Regions from separate parts of the Homo sapiens genome. Here region 2 is linked to region 1. The links come from fine-mapping of genetic effects on gene expression. A gene starts in region 1. The other region holds a variant in brackets. All regions are shown on one strand. Distances are between the middles of the regions.

Evidence for each region. PIP is the estimated chance that this variant, and not a neighbour inherited with it, causes the effect. A credible set is the group of variants that fine-mapping cannot tell apart.
Region 2: its variant is the best candidate, but not a certain one, in a credible set for the expression of MTMR6 in thyroid (GTEx, PIP 0.80).

What each region holds. Positions count from the first base shown.
Region 1 is chr13:25,281,261-25,292,683 of GRCh38, reverse strand. MTMR6 (myotubularin related protein 6) reads left to right here and starts at 5,196. Exons shown (of 14, transcript NM_004685.5): 1 at 5,196-5,460. The coding sequence starts at 5,437. RefSeq lists enhancers at 4,883-5,052, 5,153-5,492, 5,196-5,816.
Region 2 is chr13:25,262,680-25,274,102 of GRCh38, reverse strand. It overlaps MTMR6 (myotubularin related protein 6), which reads left to right. Exons shown (of 14, transcript NM_004685.5): 2 at 1-32; 3 at 6,162-6,324; 4 at 7,817-7,974; 5 at 8,156-8,284. Among named protein-coding and RNA genes, the nearest start is that of MTMR6, 19 kb to the left of the region's middle. The variant A/T (reference allele first, on the strand shown) is at 7,020.

The sequences.
Region 1 (11,423 bases):
AAGGCAGAATAGGGCCCTTAGAGGGAGGATTGTTCAATAATGAGGCCTAGTTTAGGGAAATCTAATATTTCCCTCAAATAATGAATCTTCAGGGCTGCCTCCAGAGGCTTGCCTGGCCCAGAGCCCCTCCTGCCTTTTCTTGTGGTTGGTACATCCTGATAGGCTGGCTGATGCATCAAGATCTTTGCTGAATGGCAACAGCCTCTCCTATCATGCAGCTAGTTTCCCCTGCTCTGAATTCATGCTAACTAAGCAATCTTCTCAACTGTAATGTGACCTCCCCCCACGCTTTATAGGAAGAGAACATGCTGACTTTCATTCCCATCTGCTTTCTTGTGGTCAATGATTACACTGGTATTTTGATATTCACCAGTCTAACTAACCCTAAAAACAAGTCTCTTCCTGATTATCTTCCTTCAGATTAGTTTGTAAGTTGCAGTGGACTACTCAATTGAATTGTAACAGTATTAAGTGTGCTCTTGGCATAATTGATGAGATCAGGCAGCAGAAAATGCTTAATCTGATGAATTTTATTGTATGTCAACATTTTTAAAGGGAAGGATAGGAATGTAGGAACACAGGTGCATATTGAATCCTCTGAAACTGGATCGTGTGCTTTATAAATATTACTAACAATAAAACAAATATTAGTGAATGAACCTCTTCTCTTTCCAATGTCTCTTCATTTCCCACCCCTTGTATTGAGGGGAAATGGGTCTCTTTGTTCCTTGCAGTAATCACCAAGGGGAGAGCTGGCAACAGAGAGGCAGATGGCCTGGATCATCTGGATCCTATATATGGTACCTGACTGGGGCTTCTACTCAGCTACTGCTGCTAACAGGACATCTGTTCCCAGAGCTCCCTGTGCCTTTCACATGCACAGGGTCTTCAAATAATGATGTAGGGACCCCCAACAAAAGTACCAAGCCCCTACCCCATCATTCAATAATGAAGCTTAACAATAGGCAAATTCTCCTATAAAGAGTAAGTTTCCAATCAGCATTTTATTGCTGGAAAGGACCATTAAAGATGATTAGATATTGGAGGATCGCTTCTGACATCAAAGTCAGAGACCAAAACAGCAAACGTAGAGAGAACCTAAAAGGAATAGGGTTCAGGAAGCAAAAATTACAAGAAATACATAAATAAATGAAAACTATTATTCACCTAGGAGAGATGAGCTCTTACATGTATCAGAGCAGGAGGCTAGAAAACAAATAAATGAACAAACTGAAAAACAAAGAAAAATAGGAAAATGTATGTAACCAAAAAGATCTCTTCACTTAGAAACAATAACATTCTAGTAGACAAACCTTGTGCTCAGATTTTGGATTCTTTTTTTTTCCAGTTAGGTCATCTTGGGTTCAGAACAGATCTTGGATTCTAATAACATTTTCCAATAAAAGGAACCAGGGCTCCTTGGGGAAATGGATGATTCTAGGGCTGGGGTGGGAAAGATGCAAGATGAGCCTGGAGCATCTTGTGGTATAGCATACCTGTATTCCCAGCTACTCAGAAGGCTGAGACAGGAAGGTTGCTTGAGCCCAGGAGTTTGAGGCTGTAGTGCACTATGATCACACCTATGAACAGCCACTGCACTCCAGCCTGGGCAATATAGCGAGACCTCATCTCTAAAAAATAAATAAATAAATAAAAATAAAGTCTATTTAAAGTGAAAACACTTAGAAATTAAAAATATAAGCCAGGCACAGTGGCTCATGCCTGTAATCCCAGCACTTTGGGAGGCAAACCTTGTGCTCAGTAGACAAAAAAGGAAGAAAAAGAAGAATCCAAGATCTGAGCACAAGGTTTGTCTACAATTATATATGTATGTGCATGTATATGTGTGTATATATATATACATACACATACATACACACATGTACATATATATAATTGCAGCAATTAAAAATATTAGAAATAATGGAGTATTCTAAAAATATTAGAAACAATGAAGTATTAAGAATTTCCTAGAGAGTAGATTAGAAAGGTAAATTCTTAAAAAATAGGAGTGAAAGAATAGTAAAATTAGGAAGTCAGACCAGGAATTTCTACTGAAAAAAGAAAGGGGCTGGGCACAGTGGCTCACATCTGTAATTCCAGCACTTTGGGAGGCTGAGGCAGGCAGATCACTTGAGCCCGAGAGTTTGAGACCAGCATGGGCAACATGGAAAAAACCCGTCTCTACAAAAAATACAAAAATTAGTCAGGCTTGGTGGTGCACGCCTGTAGTCCCAGTTACTCAGGAGGTTGAGGTGGGAAGATTGCTTGAACCTGAGGGGTTGAGGCTGTAGTGAGCTGAGATTGTGCCACTGCACTCCAACCTCAGTGACACAGTGAGACCCTGTCTCAAAAATAAATAAATAAAAATAAAACAAAATAAAAAGAAAGGAGAAAGGACAGGAGGGAAATAGGAAAGAAGAAAGATGAGGGAGAGAAGAGAGGTGAGAAGAATAAAAAAAATTTTTAAAGGGAAAAAAGAAAAAGGAAGAAGGAAAAAGAACGAAACAGTAATTATTACAGAAATAATACAAGAAAATGTCCCAGAATTGAAGGACTTATGTTTTCAGATTACAGAGCTCAAAACACTGGGCAGAAAAATAAACAAGAAAGCTAAGTTTTATTATGTTGAAATTTTAGACCATTGGAGATAAAGAGATCCAAAAAGCATCCTGAGAAAGTAGAAGCGACACCTAAAGGGAAATCGGAATGCCAGCGGATTTCTGAACAACTGCATTGAAAGTCAGGATATGTCTCTGGGAGCTTTCAAAATCCTAATTAAAATTACAGAATTCTAGACCTAGCCAAACTTCCCGTCAAGGATTTATGCTCCATTCACCCTTTCTCAGGAAGTTAATACAGAATATACTACATCAGAATAAAACAATGCAAGTAAGTAAATCAAGAAAGATAAACCACAGGATCTAAAAATTCAGCACAAGTAACCAACACATTTCTCAGGCCCATGGTGAGGAGAGTCCCAGGATAATATCCATTCAGTAGGCTCAGAGAACACAAGTGCAAACTGGAGCAAAAGGAGAAAAGGCTCCTAGAAGCATCTGGAGACCTCTAAAGAGATGTCTCGAGGAAAGATAATGGAACTGAGTGATTGCCAGATTTAACCATAAGGAATATTCTATCTAGTGCAAGAGTATTCAACTCAAGAGTCAAAGAAACGTCATTTAATATTTTATCTGTTATTTTACTTTCTTTCTGTAAAGCTAGGTAATTTTCTAGCCTATCATATTAACATAAATAGAACTTTAATATGGATTTTGAGAAGCAAATCAATGTAAAACAGTTGTTAAGAATACAGACTCTGAAGTCAGCCTGTCTGGCTTTATAACATGGATCTTGGCTTTATCTGCTATGTGATATTGGGCAAGTTACTTCACTTCATTGTGTCTCGCTTGTCTCATCTCTAAAATAAAGAAAGCAATAGCATTTTCCTCAGAATACCCGTAAAGCACTCAGTACATTTGGTCACCTGACATCATTATGATTGCCTCTCTGTGAGAATTGGTAAAGAGAGGACACAGGAAGTGAGGAGATGAGAAGAGGGAGGATAATCTGTAGGGGAATGGGGAAGGAGGAAGTTGTAAATTGGGAGGAAAATGATATAAAAAGTTTTGTTAAGAAAGTCTTGCTGTATGCTATACAATTCACCTCTTTCTGTTTTCTCAAAAAGCAATCCTCAGTAAAGACCTACATTACTTTTCTCTCTCTCTATATATATATATATGTGTATATATATATATATGTATATATATATATATATATATGTGTATATATATATATATATATATTTTTTTTTTTTTCTGAGCAGGATTTGTGGGGTTTTTTTTCGGGGGGAGGGGGTGGATGTGATACTGTACTAAGGTTGGTTTCTAGGTGGTTTAATGTAACTCTTATTACATATTTAGCTTAGAGGAGTCAGCAACTCCACCGCAAAGGCTGTTGTGTTTAATAACCATCTCCATTGCTTTGGCAATCTGTCTGAAACATCGTAGGCACTCAAAACAAAACAAACCAAGACAACTTGAACAAAATGAAACAAATAAGTGAAACAAAATTTTTAATTATAAAAGAAAATTTAGATGTTAGGCTTTTCTAACACCAATCACAGTATGAAAGATGAAGATTACAAACCTTAACCGGCTTAGTACAGAATACTTACAAAACGTAGAGCAGAGTTTCTCGGACTCTAACTCCTGACCTCAAGTGATCCGCCCGCCTCAGCCTCCCAAAGTTCTGGGATTACAGGCGTGAACCACCGCGCCTGGCATAGAGCAGGGTTTCTCAACCTCTGCACTGTTGTCATCTGCCGGATAATTCCCTGTAGTTGGGGGGTTGGTCTGGTGCCTAGTAGGGTGTTCAGCAGCCGACTTGTGACTTGGCCTCCACCCACCAGTTGCCCCCCGCCGCCACCCCCCCACCACCACCATTTGAGACAACCAAAAATATCTCCAGATGTTACCAAATGTCCCCCGGGGAGAAAACTCACTCCAGGCTGAGAAGTACCACATTAGACGTGTTCTAACAAAAATTACCTGTAACCCTCACCTAGAAATGTAAACTTTTTGTTTACATAAATAAAAATTACAGAGCACGGCTACATTGAACTTATTGTTCCATAGTCAGTTTTTTCTTCACTCAGTAATGCAGCATTAACATTTTCGTTATGTGATATCCCTCTACAGGATGAGTTTTAATGGATGCTGGTGCTAACATCGTATGAAATTGAGGTAGGAGGCGGGACTCTGACACCAGACCAGATTGAGGACTAGCTAATCATCATACTTTACATAAGGAATCCGTAGGATTGGAGAGTTGATTGTTTCAAATAAGGCTGGTTTCCTTATTTGGTTATTTCCTTAGAATAATAACTCCAAATCTGATTATTTCCTTAGAATACATTCTTATGAGTAGAACTGCAGCTCAAACTAAATTTGGTGCTGTCCAGTGGTATGGCGATGGACTTCAGAACATCCTCCACTCTTGCCCTCACCCCACAAGAACCCTTTACTCGGGATCCATTCTCACGCAGTCTTCCTCCCCGACCGCCCCGCGCGTCCGCTCGGCGGGATGACAAAGACCGCCTCGGGTGGGGTGGTGAGCAGTACCGGCCTCCTCCAGCAGGGGGCGCTGTGGGATCCGCCGCTGTCCGGGACGAACCAGCAAGCCGCTCTCGGTCCACACACGCTCTGTCTGCCTGCCCCGAGTCCCCCGGGAGGCCGCGGGGTTTGGGGAAGTGTTTCTAGGAGACGGCGCTCACCGGCTGCACCTGCGCCGTTGACGCCACCGGGGCCGGCAGACAGACCCGCGGCGCTGGCTGGTGGAGGGAGTTCCCGCTTGCTCTCTGTCGCTGTCACCGCCCTGTTTCTGTAGCCGTATGGTACGCCTGTGAGACCGGCTGCCGGCTGACGTCTCCTTGCGATGGAGCATATCCGGACGACCAAGGTAGTCGGGCGCGGGATCGCCAGTCTTCAGGGGCCCTGCTCTGACCCGGCTGAGGCAGGAGGAGACGAAGGCTCTGCTGGCCTGACTGGGGCTGGGAGCCGGCCCGGCGGAGACCCGGCCCGGGGCGGGAGGGTCTGGCCAGGCCTGGTCTGGGAGGGCAGGGTTAGCTTGGGCCAAGCGGGGTGCAGAGGCCTCCTGTACCTACAGGAGCAGGGGTCCCACTTTCAGCATCTTGGAGTGCGTAGAGATAAGTCTGGGAAAACTGGTCACCGCCCTCCTAGCTCTACGTTTTCTCGGGCAAAATTGGGGCTCCTTTAACTTTGGAGTCTTTCAGCCTTTCGTTGCCTCATCAACCGGAAAACCGTCTTCAAATTAACATTATGATGCTGTGTAAGCTTGTCCTTGCTCACATTTCATTGTCCCGTGTCACAGATTCACAGTACGAGTTTTGGAGGAACCGAGATCAGCACTCCGCTCCACCTCCCTTTGCTGTCTCGGTCTCCAGTCTTTCGCATCCGGTGTTTCCGTGTCTGTGCTTCATACTTCAGGCATTGTCCTGTGTCAGTAGTCAAGAGTTCTGGAGAAGGGAAAAATGTTATTCCATATTTTAAAAGGTCGGATGCAGCTTTATTCGATTGACCTTATTGCACTCCATGCTTAATTTTTGTGTGTGGAAGACCTTCATTTTGAGAACGAACAAATATTTTTATTTCGTTACAAATTTAAAAACGGAAGGAAATGACATCAGAATGTTACCAAATTACGTTTCCAACGACATTTAAGTTTAACTTTGAGAGGGAGAAAAACATAAATCGAGACGAGAAGAATAACATTTTAAAATCACTGCGAGCCCACTGCAAGGCAGCCTCTTGACGTTTTGGCAAAGCTGAAGCCCTTTAGTTGCTGCCCATCTTAAAATTACGGCTCATTTAGGGAACCACAGATGTTCGTTATCTTCATTGTTCCAAGAAGAATTTGTGTTTTTAAAAATTTTTTAAATGTTTCACAAACCTTTTAAAGGTATACATAAATTTTTATTGGAGCTTGTCTTTAACATTGTGCATACCGTATCTAGTAAAATTGAAGATTCTGAAAACTAACCCCTTAACATTTTTTTTTAAGAGAAGAAAGATAAAATAACTTGAGAATTCAAGTTGTGGGTACTTAAATTTTGAAAATGGAAGGGTGCTTAAGTCTATAACCAAACTCGTAGAAGGTGCACAGAGGAAAAGAGGACTAGAGTGGACATTGGATCAGGTTCTTGTATTGGTTCCAGATATGTATTATGTAGTAGCTAAGTGCACGTGACTTCCTTCTGCATCAGTTCGAAGCTCCTCTATTTTTCATATGCTTTCTACGGTGCATAGCACACAATCGAAAACCGGTAAAAGGCTGGGCACGGTGGCTCACGCCTGTAATCCCAGCACTGTGGGAGGCCGAGGTGGGCGGATCACTTGAGGTAAGGAGTTCGAGACCAGCCTGGACAACCTGGCAAAACCCCATATCTACTAAAAATACAAAAATTAGCCGGGCATGGTGGCAGGCGCCTGTAATCCCAGCTACTCAGAGGCTGAGGCAGGAGAATTGCTTCAACCGGGGAAGTGGAGATTGCAGTGAGCCAAGATGGCACCAGTGCACTCCAGCCTGGGCAATAGAGCGGGACTCAGTCTCAAAAAAAAAAAAGAAAGCCGGGTGGGGTGGTATGTACCTGTAGTCCCAGCTACTCGGGAGGCTGAGATGGGAGGATGGCTTGAGCCCACGAAGTGGAGGTTGCAGTGAGCCAAGATTGCGCCATTGCCCTCCAGCCTGGGTGACATAATTGGGGGGGGGGGGGCGGAAAAGAATAAAAAATCAGTAAAAGTAAACTGAATCTGATCAACTAGAGCAAATCCTATTCTTAGGTGGATGATAAGAGTGAACAGACTTGGAAAATATTTAGGATCCCTTGGTTATTTTAAATCTTTCCTCATTCAATTTATTATGAATATATATCTTTGTTTTTATTTGTAGAGTTGTAGCCCCTCTTATTAGCTCTTTGAAAGTTGTCACTGGTGACTTTCATTTTGTCTGATATTCCTCCTTATCTACCAACTGATGAACTTTTCTTCAAGTAATGCTCTGATTTTGACTTATCTTTACACAGTGGTCTCATGCTAGTGGTTTAATAAGGCCTTTTTAGAGACTAAGAAATTTCTGATGAATTGTCTATTAAAACTACTTTTCAAATATGCTCCTTTATTACTTTGGGTTGTTTTTCTAGTATTGGATCACTACTCTGGAGTAATATTAAGTGAGTGTATGTAGACCGCAAATAAATATTTTCTAGGTACCTAGTATGTGCCAGACACTGTATTGACACTGGGTATATAACAGCAAGATAGAGGTGGACCTCAGGGTACATTCTGTTAATTGTTGTGGGGACTGTAACATGTTCTTAAATTATTAATGTATTGGGAAATAACTTACTTTTAAAAGATTGGTTTGAACATAGCCAAACTTTTGTTTCCATTATGCATAGCCTTCACCTGGATTTAGTTAGTTTGCTGCAAAAATAAGTGTAAGTATTTAAAAAGCAAAAGTGGATTGTTTTAGATTTATTAGCTGTTTTGACCTCTATGTAGTTTAGTCATTAGGATCAAAATTGACCGTAGAGTGTCCTTTATGACTATTTAGTGATTTTTGTTGTTCAGTCAGCTCTATTTGAAAAGTAATAATTACCATTTATTGAGCAACTATATGTCAATATAGCCAATTATACAATATTATTACTTTATAATATGTACAATTGTATAAATCTGTTAATTTATACATTATCATCACTGATCTCTTAAATAACCCTGTCAGTTGGGTAGTATTATCTCCATTTATAGGTGAGGAGGAAATAGGCTTAGAGAATTTAAGTAACCTGCTCAATTAGTTCACAAGAGATAGAATTAGTATTTAAACTAAGGTGTGTTTAACTCCAAAGACTATGTATGCTCTTTCCAGTGCCTCTCTAGTTTTAATCTAATTGTTAAATGTGCATTAGTATTAATTCAGAAATAAATGCTGATGATAATTCTAAGAGCTTCCCCCCCAAACCTCTTTTTGTCATAAATAAATAATATTTATGCGGTATTGTTTTTAAATAATATTTAGGATCATTATTGCTTGCTAACCAGAGATTTATCAGATTAAGTATTTTAGCTGAATACTAATGAACATATTTATCATTCTGTTTTGGTCACATTTGGTTTACTAACTGTATAGCATCAAAGATGCCAAGTCCCTGAATCTGGATTTCTGAAAGAGCATTTCCAAGCTACACTTATGAATCATGCAGCTACTACCTATCGCTTTGAGCTCTCATTTTGCCATAATGACATAGTCCTGCCAAGAAACAATGAGAAATATGCAGAGACAGTTCTTTATGCAGTCTTTCTCCTTTCCCTGCCAGTACTTTGGCTGACATTATATATTGATGTCAAATGATATTGTCTTACCTGTGAATGGAACTTTACTGAATGGAATGGAAGAACCTTTTTTAAGCTATAAATGAAAGGCTGATTGCTAGCGTTTGTAATCAAATGGAATGTCCCATAAAAATCTGATCCTACTAAGGCCCAAATTGAGTTATTCCAAAAGTTATGCCTAACATGTTCTTTAGCTTGCTCCCTCTTTTTGTCATTAGAATGTGAGATCATCTATGTATGTATACAAATATACCTTCCCTCTGAAAGAAGAAAGGAGATATAAAAATAAGAATGGATCAAGAATAAGGAGAAACTGATATTATTTAAATTGTCTTTGAAATAAAAGCCAATAGGTTTTGAGGAGCACCTGAATGCTTTTTTCCAAGTAAAGTGTTGTTTTGATTTTCACTAATACTATCCCATTTTACAGGTGAGGAAACTGAAACCCTGAGAGAATTAATAAAATAACTTGTCCTGGCTCACACAGTTAGTTCTACCAAAGAAGAGGTGGAGGTGGGAACTTGAATGTAGGTCTTTCTGATAGCAAGCCTATTCTCTTAACCACACTCTCTTGCCTCACAGAATAATAATCTAATCAAGAGATTTGATTAGTCAGTTGGGGCAGTGTGAGTAAGAACAGAGAGGAGGGGTGGATAGAAGAAGCTTAGGTGGTCAGATTTTTTTCTAGTAGCTAGCTGAATGTGAGGATCTAGTGTGAGGGAAAAGGTCTGGCCTTGAGTAGATTTGGGAGGGAGTTGTTTGTGTTTAGGTAAATCATTGAAATTTCTATTGTGAATGAGTTTATGCAAGGAGAATATGTTGAGACTCTGTGGAGAAAAGTCTAAACACTTAAAAAGGGACAAGCAGGCCGGGCATGGTGGTTCACACCTGTAATCCTAGCACTTTGGGAGGTCGAGGCAGTAGGATCACTTGAGGTCAGGAGTTTGAAACCAGCCTGGCCAACATGGTGAAACCCTGTCTTACTAAAAATACAAAAAATTAGCTGGGCATGGTGGCGGGCACCTGTAATCCCAGCTACTTGGGTGGCTGAGGCATGATAATCACTTGAACCCAGAAGATGGAGATTGCAGTGAGCCGAGATCGTGCCACGGCATCCAGCCTGGGTCACAGAGCAGCACTCTGTCTCAAAAAAAAAAAAAGAAAAAAGAAAAAAGAAAAAAGAAGAGGGCGAGCAAGCAGAGGAGGAGAAGCCGGATGCATTTGGAAGAGGTGAAGCACAGATGGGAAGGTGACAGTCTTCCGTGTTCTAATTTCCTTCTCTGCTCCATCCTCTGGCTGCTTCCTCCTCCTTGGGCCAGGCACTGTTCTAGGTTCAGACAAAAACTCCTGCCCTTATAACTTATCTAGTTGGAGAAGAGGTAACAATAAACAAAATTAAGTTCAATGTATTGTATGTTAGATGGTGGTAAATGCTGTGGATAAAAATAAAGCAAGCCAGGGCTCTGAAGAGTATGAGGGTTGAGGAGGGGGTTTAAGGGAGGACTGCTATAAATTGAGTGGTTAGGGAAGCTCTTACAGAGAAGGTGACTCTTGAGTATAAACCTGAAACTGGTGAGGGAGTAAGCCATCCCCACATGGGGGATGGCGGGGAGAGTCCCAACAAAGGGAACAACAGGGGCAAAAACCCTTTGAGGGCATGCCTGGTTGCTAAGAACAAGCAAGACAGCTAGAGCAGGGTGAGTGAAGAAGAGCACAGTAGAAGATTAAAGTTGGGGGACAGGGGCAAGTTACTGTAGTCTTGAAGGCCACTGTAAAATCTTTGCTTTTTTTGAGTGAGATAGGAAGCCATTGATGGAATAAGCAAAGTAAGAAAAAACTGAAAAGTGCCCACTGGATTTACGATCTGAGGTTACTCTCTCCCCTCTTGAGGTCCATGACTGTTTCATTTGATAATTTATGCAGCCAGACACTGTTCTAGAAATTGGGATACATGAACAGAAACCATAATCTCTGCCCTCCACTTCCTGCACACAACTTGATGTGCTTTCTTTTTGAAAGCTAATTCTTGGCAGGATGTCAGTGTGAAATGATTCTGAGAGTCCTAGATGAGTGCCTGGCTATAGGGAAGGAGTGCGACAAGCCAGAGGAACAGTGATGGTGCACTTTCTGCTTCAGTAGCCACAGCGTCTATTGTTATGTAGTTGTAGAATAAGTACAACTGTTGGTCACAGAAGTCTGAAGAAGGCCATTGGTCCCTTCCTGTCCCAGAGGCCACTTTTTCCTCAGGGATAAAGAGGTGTCTGAATTTTCTGAATGTGATTCTGTTTGTGTGACTCCCTGTGTTTTTCATTTGGAATCTTTTCTTCTTTTTTTTCTTTTCTCTTCCTTTCCTTCCTTTTCCTTTCCTCTTTTCTCTTTCCCCTTTCCTTTCTCCTTTCTTCTTTGTCCTTTCTCCTGTCTTTCTCCTTTCCTTTCCAACAAGATCTTGCTCTGTCACCTAGGCTGGAGTGCAGTGGTATGATCATAACTCATTGCAGCCTCTACCTCCTG
Region 2 (11,423 bases), 19 kb after region 1:
TATTTATCGACTCTCATCAAAAAGAAACCTGGGTAAGGAGGACCGCAGCTGTACTATTTATCATAATAATAATGGACTTGGTCTGTCATGTTTTATTTTGAATGTGTATAACACAATTTTTAATCATTGGTTACCTATCTCAACCAAAATATTTTTTGGTCTCCAGATCACTCCTGCCCTCCCTTCTAATAAATCAGTTATAGAATATGTAACATGGAATTCTATAAAATACCACACTCTTATCTCCATAAATAATTATGAAATACCTGTTGTTCCTAGGCCGGATGCGGTGGCTCACGCCTGTAATCCCAGCACTTTGGGAGGCCGAGGTGGGTGGATCACGAGGTCAGGAGTTCAAGACCAGCCTGGCCAACATAGTGAAACCCCATCTCTACTAAAAATACAAAAAATTAGCTGGGCATGGCGATGGGTGCCTGTAATCCCAGCTACTTGGGAGGGTGAGGCAGGAGAATTGCTTGAACTTGAGAGGCGGAGGTTGCAGTGAGCCGAGATCGCGCCATTGCACTCCAGCCTGGGTGACAGTGTGAGACTCTGTCTCAAAAAAAAAAAAAAAAAATCCTATTGTTCCTTTTAATTTTTAAAAATCTAAAAAATATGTACACATTAACAGATCAAACGGATTGTTTGGTATATTCCACAGTGTTTTTATACAAATTTTAATTAGGGTACTTATTTTTTTTGCTAGTATAAATGTTGCAATGTACATATACATGTAAACAACATTTTGTGTATTTATATGAGACATATGTATATGTTTCTTTCTGTATATTTGCCAGAGTTTCTCTGGGATATTTGTCTGGGAGTAAAATTATTGGGTCTTGAATAAGTGCATATATAACCTTACTAAGTATGTCACCTCTTCAAAATGGTTGTTCCAATTTATTCTCAGTAGTGTATTACACAATGTTGTACATCCTCAACAACATTGATATTGTCAATTTAAAATTTTTTGCCTATCTAGTAGATGTCCAATTGTAATGTTAATGAGCTGATTATAAAGAATTTACCCTTTTCAGATAAAGAAAAAGGAAAGAGTTTCCTTTTCTTTTTTTATTGGGTTGTTTGTCTTTTATTGATTTTATAAAAGTTCTGGGCTACAAATAGAATTACCATTCAACCCAGCAATCCTTTTACTGGATATATACTCAAAGGAAAATAAATCAACCAAAAAGACACGGGCATTTGCATGTTTGTTGCAGCGCTGTTCACAATAGCAAAGCTATGGAATCAACCTAGGTGCCCATTAGCAGTGGATTGGATAAAGAAAAAGTGGTGCATATTCACCACAGCCATAAAAAGAGAACAAAATCATGGCCTTTACAGCAACATGGATGCAGGTGGAAGCCATTATTCTAAATGAATTAACACAAACAAAAAACCGTATACTGCGTGTTCTCACTTATAAGTGGGAGCTTAACATTGGGTACATACGAGCACAAAGATGGGAACAATAGACATTAATAGACTAATAGAGGTGGGAGGGAGGGAAGTAGAGGAACAAGGGTTGAAAAACTACCTCTTGGGTACTGTGTTCACTGTCTGGGCTATGGGTTCAGTCAAAGCTCAAACCTCAGAATCATTCAGTATATTCATATTACAAACCTGCACATGTACCCACTGAATTAAAAAAAAAAGTATTATTCAAGAAAACAAATAAAGAGTTCTAGGTTATAATGCTTTGTCAGATGTGTGTGTCATAGATAGCTTTTCCCAGTGTGTGGCTTGTCTTCTCTGTTTTTTATTTTATATGTCTTTCAGTTGAAGTTTATATTTTTAATGTTATAGATTTTTCATTTTTTTCTTTTATTGTTTGTGCTCTGTTGTGACTTAAGAAATCCTTTCCTATGTCAAAGTCATAAAGGTTCTTCTATATTTTCTTCTAAAAGCTTAAGTTTGATCCTGTAAGTTGTTAATACATCTGGGAAATATTTTGGTGTATGATGTGACTAGGGATTCATTTTTATGTTTTCGTATAGACGACCGGCGCCATTTATTGACTGTTTCATTCCATTCGTCTTTAGTACCAGCTCTGTCATAAAAACATCTTCCATGTATGTGAGGCTCTGCTTTTGAGTTTTCTTTTCTATTCGTTTGGTATACTGACTACACTGTACCACACTGTTTTATTGACTATAGCTTTTAAATAAATTTTGATATCAAGTAGAGCATACCCTCCCAACTTGTTCTTCAAAATTGCCATGGCTATTTTGGATTCTTTGTTCTTCCTTTTCTGTTTTAGAATTCATTTAGCACACATTTATTGAGCATATACAGTGTGTTTCATATCACTATTCTAGATATTTTGGAAACAATAGCCAATAATAACAGGTACAAATTCTATCCTCATGGAGCCAACATTCTAGTGCTGAAAGATATTGATAACATCACCAATAAGTAGGTAGATAAGTAAAATACATAGTGATAAGTGCTAAGCAGAAAAAGAAGTAGGAAAGGTGGTTAGAATATGGGGCTTGTGTCTCTGTGCCTGAGAGGAAGAGACTTGGGCATGTTTCTGTGCCACTAGCTCTGCCAGCTTTTAGAACCTCCACTTTATAGATGAAGAAGCTGAAGCTCAGGCAAGTGGCAATTCATTCATTGTTACACAGGCAGTGTAGAGTAGTAAAATGAGCTCACGTAGACTGTGTTGTCAGGTAGCTTTGGGTTCAAATGTCAGCTCTGCTGTTCACTGCTTGGGTGACTATGTCAGGGTGCTTTTGGCTGTAAGTAAATGAATACCTGACTGAACATGGTGCCAAACCTTGCAAAGCAGGAGAGGTGGGTAGGCTTTCCTCAGTAGCCCCATTGCTTATCAGGGAGGAGAAGCTCTCTCAGAAGGCCCCCAGCTAACTTTCCCTAACATCTGATTGTTTGAAAATCCGGACACTTGGCTACTCCTACCTGAAAAGGAGGCAGAGAATGTAGATCCTAGTATTTTTTATCTCTTGAGGGAAAAGGATGTTGCAAGTAAGGAAGGGGGGGAGGAATGGCAGACCAACAGTGTCTGCCAAAAAGTATGTAACTTTCGAGCTTAGCACCCACATAAAATGGGTATATAGCATCAGTCATCATGTAGGGCTTTTGTGAGTCTTAGATGAAAGAAAATATGAAAAACATCTGTGCGTAAAACATAGTAGTGGCGTAAATCATAGCTGCTCATACTATTTTTCTAAGCAGTTGAATCAAGATTAGAGGTCAATTATGCCTCCCAGTCCAGAGATTGATGTTGCTCTGTGGTACACCCCTGTACTGCACATACTGTCATACTGTTCTCTTCTCTTTCTCTCTTTGATTGTACTCTTCTGATTTCCCCAAGAAGGCTAACCAATTGATATATGATTCTATATCAGCTGTTAAGGAAACTCACTTGAGATACTGATCTTGGAGAAGTTGTATTCCCTAGAGGCACTGGATCCCTTCTTCATCCAGTGTTTGTCCAAGAATTGCCAGGAATTTTACCTAGCAGTACCTTCTGAAATAATTAGTCATATTATCATCCACTCCATCTACCCCTCCTTTGTCCACTTGCTTCAGTATTTTCTCTATTATCCATCTCGTAGAGATATAAATGAAGGCTTCCCGTATAGCTATTCCCTCAGCTGCTGGGAATGTAGTTTGAGGGGCAACAAAAAGATATCTGTGTTATTCTCTACTCTCCTATTGTTGTCTTTTAAATGCTTTCTTATCAGTATATTCCCTTATGTTTGCCCTAAATGAAGTTTGTTTAATATACTAGAGCCATAGAAATGAACATTTTAGATCCAGAAGGGGCCGTATCAACCTTATATCCTTTTTCTCACTTTACAGTTGATTATGTTTTCAAAATCACATAACTAGTTAGTGGTAGGACCAGGTTTCTTCATCATTTTCTTCCTGCAAATACTTTTGGGTTTTTATAATTAAAATCAGAACAGTGATGTACAGGTTGAATATCCCCAATCCAAAAATTCAGCACTGACATGATGTTCAAAGGAAATGCTCATTGGAGCATTTCAGATTTCAGATTTTCAGATTAGGGATGTCAATTGATAAGTATAATGCAAATATACCAAAATCTTTAAAAATCCAAAATTTGAAATACTTCTAGTCCCAAACATTTTGGATAAAGGGTTCTCAACTTGTAATATTACAGTTAGCTTTTATTCCTTATTCTCTGTTTAAATGTTATTATTAGATCATTTTTAGTAACTTGTCACAGGCGCATTAATATAAGTGATAATGGTGCTAAATCTTAGCCGTAAGGACTATATATGTGTGTGTGTGTGTTAATTATTTGTTCTCTATGTAGTTTTAATTTCCATTGACAACTGCTTCTCTCATTGTTTTTCAAGCTTTTCTTGATTATTTAAATGCATTTAATTTTGCAGGTGAACTTTAGATTTAAGATGTATAATTAATATTAACATATAATGTAATAATTACATAATATATGTGTATTATATAAATAATCATCCCTCACTACAAAACAAAGCAGATTGGAATTTTTAAACTGAAATTTATGTTGAATTTTTAGATTAATTTGGGATAAATGGATCTCTTGCATGATTAGGAGCCTATGATCTTTTATTCTCCAGAAAAGTTTTCTATAAATATTTTAATAGGAGTGTTATTAAGAAAAAGTAGGCATTTTTAGTAGCAAACAAAATATTATTGGTAGTAGGTGAGAACAATAAGCATATGTTTAAAATACCATCAAGTATTGAGTTTATAGTAGGACTTTTTATTCATTCATTTAGTAAACTCTTATTGTGATAAAGGAGGTATCAGGGATGACATCCATATTTCTGGCTTGGGCATTCACATTTAAAAAATTAAAGTTGAAGTGTGTGATATATAACATTTGCAAGCTTTTTGATTTGAGGAGGGCAATTATAATGTTCCAGGTACTGTGTTAGGTGCTGGAGATGTAATGTTGATCAACTCTGCACCATGCCACCCCCAAGGTCCTCAGCCTCCCTCCTGTGCTCATGGGCACCCAAAATTTCAGCCTCAGAAGCAGTTTCCAGAGGGGCCAAGGCAGCTAGGGGCTGGTGTGTCAGTACCGCCCCAAGCACATGCACACCCAGCTAGATCACGACAGTATCTGGGCTTGGCTATTGGGACATGTCCACAACTTTGCTCTACCACAGAACAGGCAGTGGGAGTTGGGAGAGGCCAGGGAGTGGGAGCAGGCACTTCTGAACCTGCAGGGGGAGGGGGTTTCCTAGGCCCCCAAGAGCACAGGGATGCCTGGGTCCAGAGCCATGGCTGGGCGGCTGCAGCTGTGCCCGGGAGTGTGGCTCCTGCCCTGCCAACTCGGTAGGGTATGGGGCTTCCACTGGGATCACCTGTTCCCAGGTCTTGCCTGCTCTGCAGAGCGCGCAACCCTGGCTGCACCTCCCCCACTGCAGCTGGCATCCTCACAGTGGCCTTCACTGTGAAGGAAAAGTATAGCTTGATCTGCAGGAAGAAAAGGGAGGGGGCCTAACTTACTTGGAAAGGGTTGTGGGGCATGTCAGGCTACGCTTTTGGTGTTATTATGAGTTTTGAGCAAAGACCAGAAATGTGTCTAGAAGTTCTTAGATGAAGAGGTAGTGTTAACAGTATTCCAGTTAGTGGGAGCATCTGACCATGTGTAAAGGAGCTCGGTGCATTTGAGGAGCCAAAAGAAGGCTGTTGTCACTAGAACATAGTCAGTGATCGGGAGAGGGACTGGAAATGACTAGATTCCCTTCCTTTTCTTAATCTGCTTTTCAATGTTCACTACTGTGTTGTAGAAAATGGATCAGAGGGTCAGGGGTAGGTATGGAGAGAGCATTTAGGAGGCTGTTTGTTTATAGTAGTTCAGGTGAGAAACAGTGGGGACATTACAACTAGGGATGTGACAGTAGAGATAGAGAGAAGTAGATGGGTTACAGAAACATGTAGGAGATGCAGTTCCCAGGGTCTGATAATGTCTTGAGTATGTGGACTGATGGAGGAGGGATCAGAGTGACACCCATATTTCTGACTTGGGCATTCAGTCATTTTAAAAACGTGAAGTTTGAGTGAGTATGTAACATTTTCAACTTTTTTTGAGGAAGACATTCTTAAACTTATGCATTCTAGAAGAGAATATTTAGTGCTTTCCATGTTGATGACCTGGATGTTTTTTCATGCTGTAGATATTACACCACCATATTGCCTCAGTAGAGAAACTTGCTTTGACTACTTCTGGATGCCCCCTTGTGATACAGTGCAAGAACTTCAGAACTGTGCATTTCATTGTTCCCAGAGAAAGAGATTGCCATGATATTTACAACTCTTTGCTACAACTGTCAAAACAAGGTATTGTTCTTAGAGACCAAAGCTTACATGCTCAATTTGAGATGGGTTATCTAAGATACTTTATTTAATGTTTTATTATTGTTATTTTATCCTTTTTTGCTCTGACAGTCAGGTTCTTTTGTACTCTATCTCCCCCATATTGGCCTGAAAGTAATTAGAAACTATTGATCTGATATAAGAATGGTGTCATCAGAAGGGGTAATGGTAAGGAAAAAGTAAAGCATTTATAGTAGAGACTTACAAAACCACAGGTTTATATTAATCTTTTAAGTCTATTGATGGCAAGTAGCACAATGTATTTTTTAAGTGGGTATTTCACAATCAAAGAGAATGACTTGGAAGTTGATATTACGGAATGATAAAAGGAAGGTCAAGGTCCTTTGGTGGCAGTGGGACTAAAATATTTAATAGATTTGAGTGGGAGATACAGAAGATAAGCAGAGAAACAAGAGAGGGTGAATTCTATTTTAGTAGAAGTAAGGTTGAGAGGGATAGCAGTCCTAAAGAAGAACCTTTTTTTTTTTTTTTTTTTGAGATGGAATCTTACTCTCTCGCCCAGACTGGAGTGCAGTGGCACAATCTCAGCTCACTGCAACCTCCGCCTCCCAGGTTCAAGCAGTTCCCTGCCTCAGCTTCCTGAGTAGCTGGGATTACAGGCAGCCACCACCACACCCGGCTAATTTTTGTATTTTTAG[A/T]AGAGACGGGGTTTCACCATCTTGGCCAGGCTGGTCTTGAACTCCTGACCTTGTGATCCACCCTCCTCGGCCTCCCAAAGTGTTGGGATTGCAGGCATGAGCCACTAAAGAAGAATCTTATCGCTACTTATGCCCTGTGGATCTGGTGACTTCCTTCCCCAAACATGACTTGAATTATATGTCGGACTGGATTTTGGTTGAGCAATCTGGATTGCTGCCTGCAAGAGTGGTCTCAGAGCAGGTCTTTGTTCATTCTTCTCTCTGAGCACATCAGCCTGTAACATCCTATTGTCTCAAATTAAGCCAGAGTTTATAGTAAGGATGATTCTGAAGCACCCCAAGAGTTCTGTGCAACAGTTGCCATTTTTAGTCAACAGTGTCCTATAGGGATGTATAATGCAGTTTCATGTTCTGTATCTGTCTCTAGCTTCTCATTATAACATTAGTCTATTTTACATCTCATTTGGGAAAGTGATTAGTAGGAAATGTCTATTAGTGTCTTTATCATTTTACTTTTAAGAAAAATACTGCAATAGAGGATTTAACATGTAAGTCTAACTATTCTGACTGTATTTATTAGCTTTACTTTTGTTGATGACAAATCCAATCTCAGATTGATATGTGTGCTTTTTAGGTATAATCATTTGCATACTGAACATCAAATGTATTCAGGTATTAGCCATCTCTTTGAAGATTGTAAAGAGAAAAATGAAGGAAGAAAACTGAAAAATTACATTTATTTGTAGTGTATAAGTCTTATAAATTGCACTTAACATTTAAAATTTTGTATTCTGTAGCAAAATATGAAGATCTCTATGCATTTTCTTATAATCCCAAACAAAATGATTCAGAACGACTACAAGGCTGGCAGCTCATTGATCTCGCTGAGGAATATAAGAGGATGGGAGTGCCAAACTCACACTGGCAGTTGTCTGATGCCAACCGGGACTACAAGGTACCTTAACAACATTTTGGAGAAATTCAGAAAGTGTTAGTACCAGAGGGTTAGAGAGTGTCAGCGTAGCAAGTTGTCTGTGTACTGAAATGTGCTGTTCTTGCATTTAATAAGGTTTAAAGGTTTTTAAAGTGGTTTTGAACTAAGAATACAATGGTTATGTTTTGTTTGATATTTACAGATTTGTGAAACTTACCCCAGAGAACTTTATGTTCCCCGGATAGCAAGCAAACCAATAATTGTTGGTAGTTCCAAGTTCCGGAGCAAGGGAAGATTCCCAGTTCTTTCCTACTATCATCAAGATAAGGAGGTAGGATGCTTTTCTTTTGATTTTAGAAATAAAGTATAACTCATCTTCAGGTTTAAGTATCTAAAATAACACTTTTTTTTTTTTTTTGAGATAGGGTCTCGCTCTGTTGCCGAAGCTGGAGTGCAGTGGCACCATCTTGGCTCACTGCAACCTCCACCTCTCGGTTCAAGCAGTTCTTGTGCCTCAGCCTCCCGAGCACCTGGGACTGCAGGCGCGTGCCACCATGCCTGGCTAATTTTAGTAGAGACGAGGTTTTGCCACGTTGACCAGGCTGGTCTTGAACTCCTGACCTCAAGTGATCCACCTGCCTTAACCTCCCAAAATACTGGGATTACAGGTGTGAGCCACTGTGCCTGGATCAAGAACACTATTTTTTACATTAAAAGATTGCTAATGGAGAAGCACTGGCTTTTTGTTTAATTACGTTTTTGCAAATTTAAAACAAAACTACTCAAATACAGAAATTTTCATACTTCTTGTCATCTTTTCTTGACCCTCCCTTCCTTCCAGCAGTGACTTGAAAATAATAGAATTAGTTAACAGATAGGATCCTCTTTCTTTCCTGTGGTTCTCTTTTGATTCTGCTTGTGTTTGGGAAAACCAGATAGTTTTGATAAGACAACCGCTGAGACAAGGGAGAGAACCAAGGGCATTTCAGGGTCCCATTTTAATAGTAAGCTCAAATCAAAAGGATTTTGCAACATGAAACAGTGGAGGAGGCATCTTTATAGTGAGATGCTGTAATAAGGGTTGCTTATATTAGTAAAACTTACCTTTGTAGCCTACTAATAGAAGGCCAAGAGGTACTGTATGTTAAATGGTTTACATGTATGTCTTCCTAACTTTGTAAGGTAGGCTTTACTAATTACCTGTAACTTTCAAGTGGGGAAACTGACATTCAAAGAGGGTAAATTACTTCCTTGTCTCACAGCAAGTAAGTTGAGGAATTCTGTGCCATTTCTGACTCCCAGTCCTTTGGGACCTGATTTTGTTTTCTCTGAGAACTTTTAGAATCCTCTTTTTCCCCAGTGTTCTGAAATTTCTTTTTTTTTTTTTTTTTTTTTTGAGATGGAGTTTCTCTTGTTGCCCAGGCTGGAGTTCAATGGCGTGATCTCGGCTCACAGCAACCTCCACCTCCCGGGTTCAAGCGATTCTCCTGCCCCAGCCTCCTGAGTAGCTGGGACTACAGGCGCCTGCCACCATGCCCAGCCAATTTTTGTATTTCTAGTAGAGACAGGGTTTTACCGTGTTGGCTAGTCTGGTCTTGAACTCCTGACGTCAAGTGATCCACCCGCCTCGGCCTCCCAAAGTGCTAAGATTACAGGTGTGAGCCACTGCGCCCTGCTTGTTCTGAAATTTCACAGTAATGTCCTTTTAAATCTCATCCAGAAACTCAGGTCTCAATTTTGGGAATTTGCTTCTCTATTTCTTTGATAATTTCCTCTGTTCTATTAATTTTCTTTGTCCTTTTTATTTATTAGTTGACAATTGGGCTTTGTAGAATAAACTTCTACTTTTTTAAAAACTTTCTCCTTTATTTTTCATTTTTTTTTTTGGATTTTCTGGAAGATTTCCTCAACCTCATCTCCAGTCTGTGTCTTAGATCCTTTTTTTGCTGTGGTGTTTTTAATATCTGAGAGCTTTTCCTATTTTCTGAAATTTTTAAAGATGGTTTTCTATTCCTGGATGTGATGTTTTAGTTCTTTGAGGATGTTAAAGATTTAAAAAAATAATTCTCATGCTTCCCACATTAGTTATTGTTTTGCTCAGAGTTCCATTTTTTTCTATTTATTTAGTGTTTTTGTCTTTCATGTCTTTCAAATACCTGTTTCTTGGCTGAGTTCTCATATTCAAGCTGTTTTGAAGTTTGTGTGCAGGAATGGTTTGTATCTTGGGATTCTTTCTTTGTTTTCTTTTTTCTTTTTTCTTCTTTGAGACAAGGTCTCGCTTTGTTTCCCAGGCTGGAGTGCAGTGGCACAATCTCGGCTCACTGCAACCTCCGCCTCCTGGGTTCCAGTGATTCTCCTGCCTCAGACTCCCAAGTAGCTGGGATTACAGGCATGTGCCACCATGCCTGGCTAATTTTTATATTTTTAGTAGAGATTGGGTTTCACCATTTGGCCAGGATGGTTTCGAACTCCTGACCTCAGGTGATCCACCGGCCTCGGCCTCCCAAAGTGCTGGGATTGCAGGTGTGAGCCACCGTGCCTGGCTTTGGGATTCTTTCTGTTGTATAAGTTGGTTTCCTTAAAGAACAAACCTCTAATTTTGGTCCCAATGTGTATAGTAAGTCTGGCCATGATCCAAGGGTGAGAAGAGTGATGTCAGGATTTCACATTTTGTTATGTAGACTTTACTTAATGCTCCTAGTCTTTGTGAGTATAGGGCTTCACCCCTGCCCACAGCTGTGTCTATTGTCTATAGAGTCTTCAGGTTCATCCTTATCATGGAATAAACTTTGTCTTCAAGGTAAGGGAGAATCTGGTGGTCTTAGCTAGTTCTCGTACAGGCATTCAAGCAGTTCTCCTTTTTTTCAGTTATATACCTGCTCAAGCCTTCAGAGGTTTTGAGCCTTTTGAGATTTTGCTGCACAAAATACCTTGCTTCTTACTGACTTAAGGGAGTTAGCAGCTTTCTTTGTCCTGTAAAATTGGTTATCACTTGCTAGTCAGCTGTCATCTCCCCAAATTTTATTGACATCTCTATGTCTTTTTTCCCATTCTCTTTGTCCCTGTGGTTTTATGCATTTTAACTTTCTTTATTCGAACCTGACTTGGATTTTGGGAAGGAGCAGAGGCAAAGGGGTAAGGGTTTAGACAGAAGTTTCTAATCTGCTTTTCACAACTAAATCACAGAGAGGTTAAATGGTTATGGCCTCTCTTGACACAGCCATATGTGTAAACATTGTTTATTGGAAAGTTGGGCTGAAAATAGTTATTCTGTGAACAACTTAACAAATCAGAAAGTAGGTCTGAAAAGAATTTAATAAGGCAATGTTCATTTTCTACTGTTTTATCATATTTTCGTGGTTTTATTTTGTGAGTTTAAAATATGCAATTGTGTGAATTTGCATGTATTTTTGTTTTCCATTGGAGAAAAAGTATATGGATCTAAATCTTTTAAATCTTTTTTTAGGACT